Linked DNA regions of Homo sapiens: region 1 is linked to region 2. Evidence: fine-mapped expression QTL. A gene starts in region 2. The other region holds a variant in brackets. All regions are shown on one strand. Distances are between the middles of the regions. Region 1 overlaps MCOLN2 (mucolipin TRP cation channel 2). Region 2 holds the start of MCOLN2 (mucolipin TRP cation channel 2).

Region 1 (5,382 bases), 62 kb after region 2:
TACAGGATATTGAAACAAGAACTGTACAATACTAGAAAGCATGTATTATAGTTGTCTGGGACTGGCTTAAGGGGTCACATGGTTACCCGGTGATCATCAAATGGGAAATGTTTGGACGTGAGATCACTATATTAAAAATGAAAATTAAGTGAGGAAAATTATTATAAAAAATTTCCAATTTAAAGTATTATGTTTTTCATCCAAGTTAATTGAGAAGAATGAAGATGGGCAGAGACTGCCTAAAACGACCATAGTAGGTTTACGATAGAAATGGTGACACGTCTTGTCTCTGCAGACGGTTTTGATTACAGCATCATCTTTCTGCCTTATTAAAGATCAGTATCTGAATTCTAAACTATTACCAAACTTCAGTTAGCATTATAATCTCAGGGACATCAAAGTTGTGCTAAGATGTTCTTGTTATAAAATGATACATTTGATTGGTAGATGCATCAGGAAATGAAACTAGGTAAGCCTTGGTTTTAACCCAAAAAAGTAAAAGGAGTTATTTTATCTTATGGCTTTTCCTCCATTTGGGCCTGTGGCAGTTGGAACAACAGAAACAACAAAAATAGCAGCAGCTAACACTTACTGCTTGTGTGTTAGACACTCTGCTGGGCATTTCGGTGTTCTTTCTTATTTACTCCCCACAACAACCCAGGGTACTGTTAGCCTCACTTAGGTGCTCTGCAAGGAGAAAAGAGGTTAAAAATGGTAAGTATTCCTTCCAAGTTTGTATACCAGTTCAGCCTTAAGTTTTGACCTTGTTAGTTGCATTAACCAAATCTGTGATCAAATCTGGTTTACAAACTGTTATACATGAATCTTAAACCTCCGTGCTGTCCTACCAGAATAATGTCGAGTAACCTGGAACACTCAGACTTTCTTCTTTTTAGGTGTCACATTTAATATGTCTAGAGAGAATTACTGTTTTTCCTATTTGAGATATTATATAATTAACAAAGTGACAACCTCTGGGTTGGTAGTAAATCTTGATAATATTGCTCTTCATACTCCATGTCACTGCTTTAAAGGTGACTCATGAGAAAAAATTATTCTTTGATATGATCTCTCTGATTTGGAGAACTTACTGTCTTAGAGCCTGGAAAAATGTATTTTTCTTCCTTGCTTGCCTCATGCTCTGAAAGCTTTTCCACCTCTTTGTCACTAGAGGGCAGTGTTGCACTGTGTGGAATAAATACCGTTCCTGAGGATTCGGCTTTAATTCACTGACTCCAAGGTCTGTGGACAAGTGGTCCCATCTCCTTTGCACCCCATCCCCGTCTCCCCTACCTCATCATTATTCTGGAAGGTGCTCAGATAAGATTGCTAGAATTTTACTAGATGGCTACCATTCTCAAGTGCTGTCTGTTAGGCATGGTGCCCAAGATTCTTCATCTCCCTTGCTGTGTTAACCCTTCCCTCCCCTTCTCTGTGAAGAAATCTGATTGTCCTGTTACAGAGAATAGGCACCTTAATATATTAAATAATATTCCTGAGATTACCCAGCTAGAAAGTGGCAGAGATGGGATTCAAACCCAGGTCGGCCTGACTCCAGTACCTGTGCTTTGACCCATACCCTGTAGAGCTTTTCTTGGTATTATCTAAAACAGATCATTGCAAGAGAGCATTTAGCCTGACAAGAAACAGTCTTGTACTTGGAGATCAACTGTGAGAGGACAGCCATGTAATCGGCTTCATTCTTTCAATGGTGTCAAGGTCACCTCATGGAAAATGAGGTTATTTGTTTTGTGAGCCTGACTGCATTTCCATATGTTCAATTTGTCCTTTCAAAGGATCCAGGTGAAACTGGGATGCTCTGAGCCAGCACTGTCCAAGAAAAATACAGTTTGGGCTACAATTGAGAGCCTTGCCTATACTGTAAAATTTTCTAGTAGCTACATGAAGAAATAAAAAAACAGATGAAATTATTTTTAATTATATATTTTAAGCCTAATATACCCAAAATATTATTTCAGCATGTATTCAGTATAAAATATTGAAATATTTTACATTCCTCCATACTAGTCTTTTTGATCTGGTGGATATTTTATCCACATAGCACGTCTCAATTTGGACTAGCTATCTATTGGATGCTGGCTATTCACACATTCCTGGTGACTACCACTATGGACATTGCAGCTCTAGACTTATGTCTTTCACTTAATGTTAGCTTTCCTTTATACCCCTGGAGGAGGGGAGGGATAAGGGATGTCTGTAGGGTTGCCTGCAGGTCTGTTTATGGCATCTCTCACCAGGCTGATATATTGGGGAAATACACAGCTGAGTTAATTCACTGAATGTACAAGTCAGTTGGGGGAGAGAACGTCAGTCTGGTTTTGGAACTTTGTGCTTTTCTTCACCATATTGCTGCCTCTTTGAATCTGAAGTTAGAATATTTTATTGCCCCTTGCATCCTTTCCCCCAAATTAATCCAAGCTGTCAGCATGTTCAGGTTCTGCCAGTATCTGAATCAGAGGACTTTCAGGTTACCTGAAGCCTTGAAAAGCTAGGCATTCCAAGCGGGCATTTTTGTGGGATTTTTAGAATCACAGCAACCTTGATTGTGAAAGCTAATTCTTTCTTTAAAACAAAACAACTAAAAAGGAGACATTAGGAAAACCGTTTGACTGATAGCTGGGGTCCCATAACACTTCAGCTTCCTATCTTCCTGTTAGGCATCTGATTTCAGGGGCTCAATGGAAAGGGAGTCAAGATGCAAAAGGCTTCCTGCTGATGTGTATTCCCAGCACTAATGGACTTTGGCACAGTGCCCTTTCAAAATGCCTGGGCACAGAGGGTGAGAGACTGTTGATGTTCTTCCAGACCTCATCTTGAATTATTAAACATTACTCTAATGCGGCTTTTACATTTCCAGAGGACTTTTTTTCCTGTGAGGAATAAATCATAGCCTTGCATTGTCCCCATTTTACAAATGAGAAGACCAAGACTTGAAAAGTTGTTGGACTTCACTGATGCCATGGGTCAAAGTTCAGCAGACTCTGCATTACATTTTCCTCCTTCCAAGCCCTCTGGTTTTAGCCAAGTACCCCTCAGCTAAAACATTTTGCCTAAAGTTTGCATGAGATTCTTGGCACCAGCTCTTAAAGCAAATATTTATGTTGTTCTCTGACATAAGCCATTGCAG[G/T]TTATGGTTTCATTGAAATTAAAGGTTTTTGGCCCAACTGCAAACTTATCATTTGTGAAATGAATGGTTGAGTTCTCATCGTGGGCCCAGAGAACCTATGGGGACTCTTTATGGAAATACCCATTTAATACGTATTAAATATCTACTGTGCACCCAACATTGCTAGGTTCTTGTAGACCAAGTTCTTGGAGGGAAGGAACTGTAGTTTGTTCCTCTTTACATTCCCAGTGTCCAGCACAGCACATAGACCATGGTAGGTGCCCAAAAAGTTTGTTTTGAACAAACAAGAAGCAGAGAGAGAGTAGTACCTGCTTTCCAGGGGCTTATGATCACTCAAGATCCAAAGGAATGCCTTACAAATGTGGTCCTTCTAGACTGGAAGCACATTAGGACCTTGAGTATTTTTAAGCTCACTTCTACTATGGAATTTGGCCACTGAAATAGACTCTGGTTCACAGCCACTTCTTGTACAAAATGGCAGGGTGTTACCAAACACCTAAAATTGACTGGGTCTCTGTTTTAACTCTTTGGTGTGTTAAAATAATTCTCATGTTCACAAGAGGAGGGGGAGGTAAAATGGTTATGAATAATGTTAATGTTGAGACAGATATTGTGTGTAGCCTGGTAAGTAACTAAACAGAAAATTAAAAAATGAATGTGACATGTACTGACAAACTAGCTATTTGCAGTTGAAACCTGAAGCACAGACAGTTGTGCTTGGAGTTAGGGGTTCTTGAAACTAGAGAAAGGAGTTGACTGGATTCCAAAAGAAACTAAGAAATGTGAATTATTAATGGTGCTGTCAGAGTTGTAGTTGACATCCATAGAAACCAACTTTAATGTCAATGTTTTCAGCTTTAACTTCAATGTTTTAAGGCTTGTGTAGCGTATGGAAAATATTTACTCTGGCAATCGCCTGTTTTACTGTTAAATAATCTACATATTGTTAAGTGATCTGTTCATTTGGATATTTCCTCTAGGTCTTTTTGGAGGAGGACTTTAGTTCATCAGAGTTTTTGCTGATGCAGCAAAGCCATGGGTGGGATCCTTGTTTGGGGTGCGTTTGTAGACCTTCTCCCTTGGCCACCAACTTTACCTTGCCTGGTCCAGCCACGTGGCTGGTAGTGTAAGGCACGGTGTTTGTATCTAGTTGGAGTACAGGGAAGTGTGTATAAAAACAATTAGAAGACCATAGTTCATTCTGTGATTCTTACCGATACGGAGTGCAGAGAAAGGACTAGAACTACCAGGGCACTTGGTCTTGAAGTACACTCTGAAATGACCCTTGAACATTGGCTTAATTGGACACAGAGAAGAGAAAGAAGAATAGAGCAGGTGAGGAGAATAAATTCCATGAGGGAAAAATGTAGGGATGGGCCTGGTGTTGGAGGAGAAGATAAGCACAGCATATTAATACTGTCAAGGAGGAGATGTGATGAGGCTGCATAAAGGAGGAACTTATCACAACCTTCTTGGTTTAGATTTTTATTTTGCATCCAAACTTTGTATAATCTCACAAGGGAGAAATGACCTGAAAGCCTTCTTCTTAAAGTACAGGTTTTACTGCAGCTTTGACTGGGGAGGGTAAAGAGATTGGAGTAAAAGAGACTTCCTTGGAAGTTTCTTTAATAATTCAGAAATTTGTGTTGACATCACAGTAGAGTAGTAAGGGTGGATTGGAGAAACATGTGATAGGAACAGACAGGCCTTAGAAGACTGAAAGCGGGGAAGAGTAATCAATTCAACACAGAGTTTTAAGGACTTAATTATTTCAGAGTAAATGTTTCTTTGGTAGGAGATTGGAATCACTGACAGAAATAGGGCAATTTAGAAAAAAAAGTTCATTTTTCTGGTTAGGGTGGTGAAAAGTTTTGTTTTGTTGGCATTTTCAAGGAATGGTCTGTTATATAACAAATGCCAGCTGAGCACAGTGGCTCATGCCTGTAATCCAAGCACTTTGGGAGGCTGAGGTGGGCGGATCACCTGAGGCCAGGAGTTCGAGACCAGCCTGGCCAACATGGTGAAACCCCATCTCTACAAAAAAATACAAAAATTAGCCGGGCTTGGTGGCAGGCACCTGTAATCCCATCTATTTGGGAGGCCGACACATGAGAATCGCTTGAACACTGGAGGCAGAGGTTGCAGTGAGCTGGGATTGCACTGCACTCCAGCCTGGGTGGCAGAGTAAGACTCTGTCTCAAACAAACAAACAAAACCTACAAATGCTCTCTAAG
Region 2 (5,364 bases):
TATGCACATTAATGTTTGAGATCCTCAGATCTCCCTTTTGAAACTATTTCTCCGTCTGCAGGGGTCCCCAAACCCCGGGCTCCAGACTGGTACAGGTCTGTGGCCTGTTAAGAACCAAGCCGCGCTGCAGGAAGTGAACATTGAGCAAGAGAGCAGCGGTTCCACTCGATTCTCATAGGGGCAGAAGCCCTACTGTGAACTGCGCATGCGATGGATCTAAGTTGCAGGTTGTGTGCTCCTTATAAGACTCTAATGCCTACTGATCTAAGGTGCAACAGTTTCATCCCGAAAACATCCTCCCCTCATCCCCCCACCTGTCCGTGGAAAATATCATCTTCCATGGAACCAGTCCCTGGTGCCAAAAGGTTGGGGTCTTACTATGTTGCCCAGGCTGGAGTGCAGTTACTATTCACAAAGCTGGATGATTGCGCACCTCCGATGAAAGGGGCTCAAAACCAAGGCATTTCTGCCTAATAACCCCTTGGAAGTGCCTTAAAAGAGGGTCAATTATGTGTGCTTTTATATACATCGTCTGTCCAACTGCTTCTGCCTGGACACGCATATTAAAATAATTACCTGGCAGAATATTCTTTGCCTGAGCTAAACCCGGAGATCTTTTAAACGCTTGCAGACTCACAGAGCCTGGCACTGCGGACTTTGCTGCTGCTACCTCGTGAAAAGGAGGGGTACGAGCTCTAGGAGGCTGTCGGCCACGTCCAAACTACCAAGCTAACATCACTAGGAGCCGAACACGGCTTTTGGTCATGTACTGACGACTCTCATCTCTAAGATTCACGAACGGCGACCGATTGTCTGTTCGATTTCCCACAGGCGTCTTCCTTTCGTGCACCAAGAGGGAAAAGCAACGGCGGCTGCAGCAGGGCGCTGGGGTTACGAGTCCAGCCCTGGGGCCGTGCGCCCTCCCTCCGCGCCCGCCGGGCCACGCTGACGCTCCCTCCCGGCTCCCTGCCTTTCATCCCGACGCGGGCGCAGGGCAACTCGCTTTTCCTATTCCTTGCGCGCCGGTCGCACTTTCTAACATCTCAGAAATATGGCCCTTGTCACAGACTTTCATGATCGTGCACTTTAGAGAAAAGCCAGAATGAATGAACTTGTCAGTTTAATGTGAAGTCCTCAAGGGAAAGGACCATGTCTTTGTCATCCCAGAGACCACAGTACCCAACGGTCGGCTTGGCTCTCAGTGAGTGTTTCCCTAAGCATCAAAACAGGAATGACCAAAGCAACGGACAAATTAATGCATGTGGAAACAAGAAATGAATGCATGAGAGAGTGAAGAAAAGAAGGGGCCAGGCGCAGCGGCTTACACCTGTAATCCTAGCACTTTGGGAGGCGGAGGCAGGAGAATCGCTTGGGTCCAGGAGTTCAAGACTGCAGTCAGCAGTGATCGCAGGTCAGGCGACAGAGTGAGACCCGGTCTCACCACCACCCCCCCGAAAAAGGCAGGAACCCCAGAGGGCCGGGAGTGCCAGGTGCGGCCGCCCGGGAGCGGTGTGGAGGGTGCGTGGGCCACTTTGCCGCAGGGCCCACCGCCCGGGTCCCTCTGTAAGGCGCTTCTCCGGCAGACACCCCGAGCCAAAGCGGGCCGTACCGCAGCGTTGGGCACTTGGGTGGAGAGTGCAAGGGCGGCGGGCCTGCGCCCAGACAGGTGTAGCCGTCCCACGCTAGGTGTCCTCCTGCCGCTCCCTGGCCGCGCCATGCCTCGAGGCATGGAGGTGCTGGACCTGCCGGTGTGCAACCGCGCCTCGGGCCTGTCCTGGGGGCCGCACCACAGGTCAGTGCCCCACGGCGCCCTTGGCGTGCCCCACGCCTCCCTGGGGGCCCCACCGCCGCCCCCTTTTGGGACTGCTTACTTCCTCGGCTCTTCTCGCGCGCGCCTCGGTTCCATCCCCTACGGCCCCCACCCCGCCTCCGCGTCGCCGACCCCCTTCTCCGGGAGCGCGGGGAGGCTGGTCCGCTGAAGCGTGGAATAAGTCCCCTAGGACCCCAACTGGGGAAGCTCCGGTCCCCGGTAGGAGGCGGCGGGGCGGGGCGGGGCGGGGCAGCCCCTTGGGGGCGGGGCGGGAGCGCCTGGCCACGCGCCGCATCCTGCAGGGTGCACACAGAGCCGCCTTTCAGCCGCCCGAGAACTGCCCGCCGCACTCCACGACTGCGGCGCCTGCTCTCGGGCCGGGGTCTGCGCGCACCACGCGGCCGGCAGAAAGGGTAAGAGAAGGGAACCCCGCTTTGCAGGGCTCCAACTTCGGCGGACGCGTTACGGCGAGGGCGAAATGAGTCGGCCGTGAACGGTGTTTCCTGTTCCGAATCCCGAGAGCCCTGGAAAGTTTTGAAGGAGGAGGCATGGCCCGGCAGCCTTATCGTTTTCCCCAGGCAAGGATTCCGGAGAGAGGATCAGGTGTTTTCAGGTTAACCGTCAGGTGAGGAGTCTGGGCTTCATCTTTCAGGATGCTGGACTGGAGAAATCTTCCTAAAGTCGATGGCTTTACTTTCGTAGACTAGAGCTTGCTTGCTGCCTTGGGAATGCTTATATTAACTGCTTGCAGTTAGTTAAATAAGGCTAGGCTGTGCCTTCCAGAACAAACAGGCCTTTCCCTCAGGTGGGAGGGTTGTAGTGTGGCTAACCCCAGTTCCTCGGCCTTTATGAAAAGGCGCACAGTTCAGCCGGTTGGCGCTGCCAGCGGGCCCCTCCTCCGTGGTCAAACCTCCAGCCACCCCAGCACAGTTGAGCCAAAGTTGTGAGTACAAACAGACCTTGGCTCCCCCGTTTCCTGCTCTCCAAACATATATATATATATATATATATATATATATATATATATGAAATATATACGTATGTGTAAGTGTGTGTGTCTCTGGTTGAACGGTACTTGTGGGAAACAAAATTGTGTGTCATTGTAAACTGAGAATGGAAGAAAAGGTTAGTAAGAGAAAGGTGGGAGAGGTTTCTTATGGGTGTCAGGATGTAGACTCTGATATTTTATGTAGAGGGAACCAACTACGTAGTTCTCCCCAGAAATGGGATGTGGGTTTCACTCTCAGGAGCTGCTCATCACCTTTGTGATGTGCTAACCAAAATCGCACAACTTTTGGGAAATTTGATAGCTTTCCCCTATTGAGTCAGAAGTTTCTTGAGACTTTAGCCTGTCTTCCTCTTCATACCTTAAGAGGAGTCAAACTCCCGTTGCCGTGAACTTTCCACAGGCACACCCTTCTCCTTTAGAAAACCGTTCATAGGTCAGTTTCTGTGGCCGGAACTCTAAAAACGACACATTTTCCATACAGAGGCCATCATAATACCAATTTTATTTAACCTCCTGTAATAAAAAATGAGTGAATCCTAATAAAGTGTTTGAGGTAGCCACATTCTTTTCTGTGAAGGAGGAACATATCAAAAGTGTTTTTTTTTAAAAAAATAGAGTAATAGATATAAAATATTTTAATGAAGCAAGTGAGAAGAACTGAGAGACATAGTTTGAGCAAAGGGGCACGAAATACAGAACTGAAAGTCAAGAATGATCATATTCACAAGCTGATCTCTTTGGCTATGTCTCTGTCAGTGAAGTGAAACCTAGAACAAGACAATTTTAAAACCGGCGGAAAAAGAGATGGCTTCTTGTGACTATAGCTTTCAAAGTAAAAGTAGTGGCCAAAGAAAACTCTTCTGGCTGTAAAAGTAAAAGTGGACTTTCCTGAAGCTGGGCTGTTTTCTTTAAGGCCTAGGGTCTAAGTTCCGTGTGTCAGTTCTGAAGAATTAAATCACTCTTTAGTGAGCTCTTGTGTCACATGTTAAGGGGTTCATAGAAAAAAGTGCAGGCATACCTTGTTTTATTGTTCTTTGCTTTATTGCACTTTGTAGATACTGCATTTAATTCAATTTTATTTTATTTTACAAATTGAAGGTTTGTGGCAACCCTGTGTCCAGCAAGTCTATTGGTGCCATTTTTCCAACAGCATGTGCTCACTTTGTGTCTCTATGTCACATTGTGGCAATTCTCTCAATATTTCAAACTTTTTCATCATTATTATTATATCTGTTATGGTGATCTGTGACCACTGATCTTTGATGTGACTACTGTAATTGTTTTGGGGTGCCATGAACTGTGCCCATATAAGACAGGGAACTCAATTAATAAATGTTGTATGTGTTCTGACTACTCCACCGACCAGCCATTCTTCTATCTCTTTTCCTCTCCCCAACCCTCTCTATTCCCTGAGACACCACAATATTGAAATTAGCCCAACTAATAACCCTACAGTGGTCTCTAAGTGTTTGAGTGCAAGGGACAATCACAGGTCTCTTACTTTAAAGGTAGGAGTGATTAAGCTTAGTGAGGAAGGTATGTTGAAAGCTGAGACAGACCAAAAGCTAGGCATTTTGTGCCATTTAGCCAAGTTTTGAATGCATATGAGATGTTCTTGAAGGAAATTATAAGTGCTACTCCAGTGAAAATACAAATGATAAGGAAGCAAAACAGCCTTATTGCTGTTATGGAGAAAGTTTTTGTGGTCTGGATAGAAGATCAAACCAGCACCAACATTCACTAAAGCTAAAGCATAATCTAGAGCAGGCCCAAACTCTCTTCAATTCTGTGAAGGCTGAGAGAGGTAATGAAGCTGCAGAAGAAAAGTTTCAAGCTAGCAGAGGTTGGTTCATGAGCTTTAAGAAAGGAAGCCATCTCTATAACATGTAAGTGCAAGGCGAAGCAGAAAGTGCTGATATAGAAGCTGCAGCAAGTTAGTTGGAAGATGTAGCTAAGATCATTGATGAAGGAGGCTACTCTAAACAACAGATTTTCAATGTAGACAAAACAGCCTTCTATTGGCAGGAGATGCCATCTAGGACTTTCCTAGTAGAGAGGACAAGCCAGCATCTGATTTCAAAGGTGCAAAGGACAGGATGACTCTCTAGTTAGGAACTAGTACAGCTGGTGACTTTTAAGTTGAAGCCAGTGCTCATTTACCATTCCAAAAATCCTAGGGCACTTAAGAATTATGTTAATCTACTCTGCCTCTGCTTTGTAAATGGAACAACAAAGCCTAGATGACAGTACACTTGTTTACAGCATGATTTACTGAATATTTTAAGCTCATGGTTGAGACCTACTGCTCAGAAAAAAAGATTTCTTTCAAAATATTACTGCTCATTGATAATACCTCTGATCATTGAAAAGTTCTGATGGAGATGTACAAGGAGATGAATGTTGTTTTCATATATGTTAACACAACATCCATTCTGCAGCCCATGGATCAAGGAGTAATTTCAACTTTCAAGACTTATTATTTGGCCGGGCGCGGTGGCTCACACCTGTAATCCCAGCACTTTGGGAGGCCGAGGCGGGTGGATCA

Evidence for each region. PIP is the estimated chance that this variant, and not a neighbour inherited with it, causes the effect.
Region 1: its variant is fine-mapped to the expression of MCOLN2 in whole blood (TOPMed, PIP 0.95).

What each region holds. Positions count from the first base shown.
Region 1 is chr1:84,932,198-84,937,579 of GRCh38, reverse strand. The region is part of intron 11 of MCOLN2 (mucolipin TRP cation channel 2); the gene reads left to right. Among named protein-coding and RNA genes, the nearest start is that of LPAR3, 42 kb to the right of the region's middle. The variant G/T (reference allele first, on the strand shown) is at 3,149.
Region 2 is chr1:84,993,867-84,999,230 of GRCh38, reverse strand. It overlaps MCOLN2 (mucolipin TRP cation channel 2), which reads left to right and starts at 2,118. Exons shown (of 14, transcript NM_153259.4): 1 at 2,118-2,435. The coding sequence starts at 2,359. RefSeq lists enhancers at 384-1,255, 3,576-3,635 and silencers at 1,826-2,115, 2,726-2,775.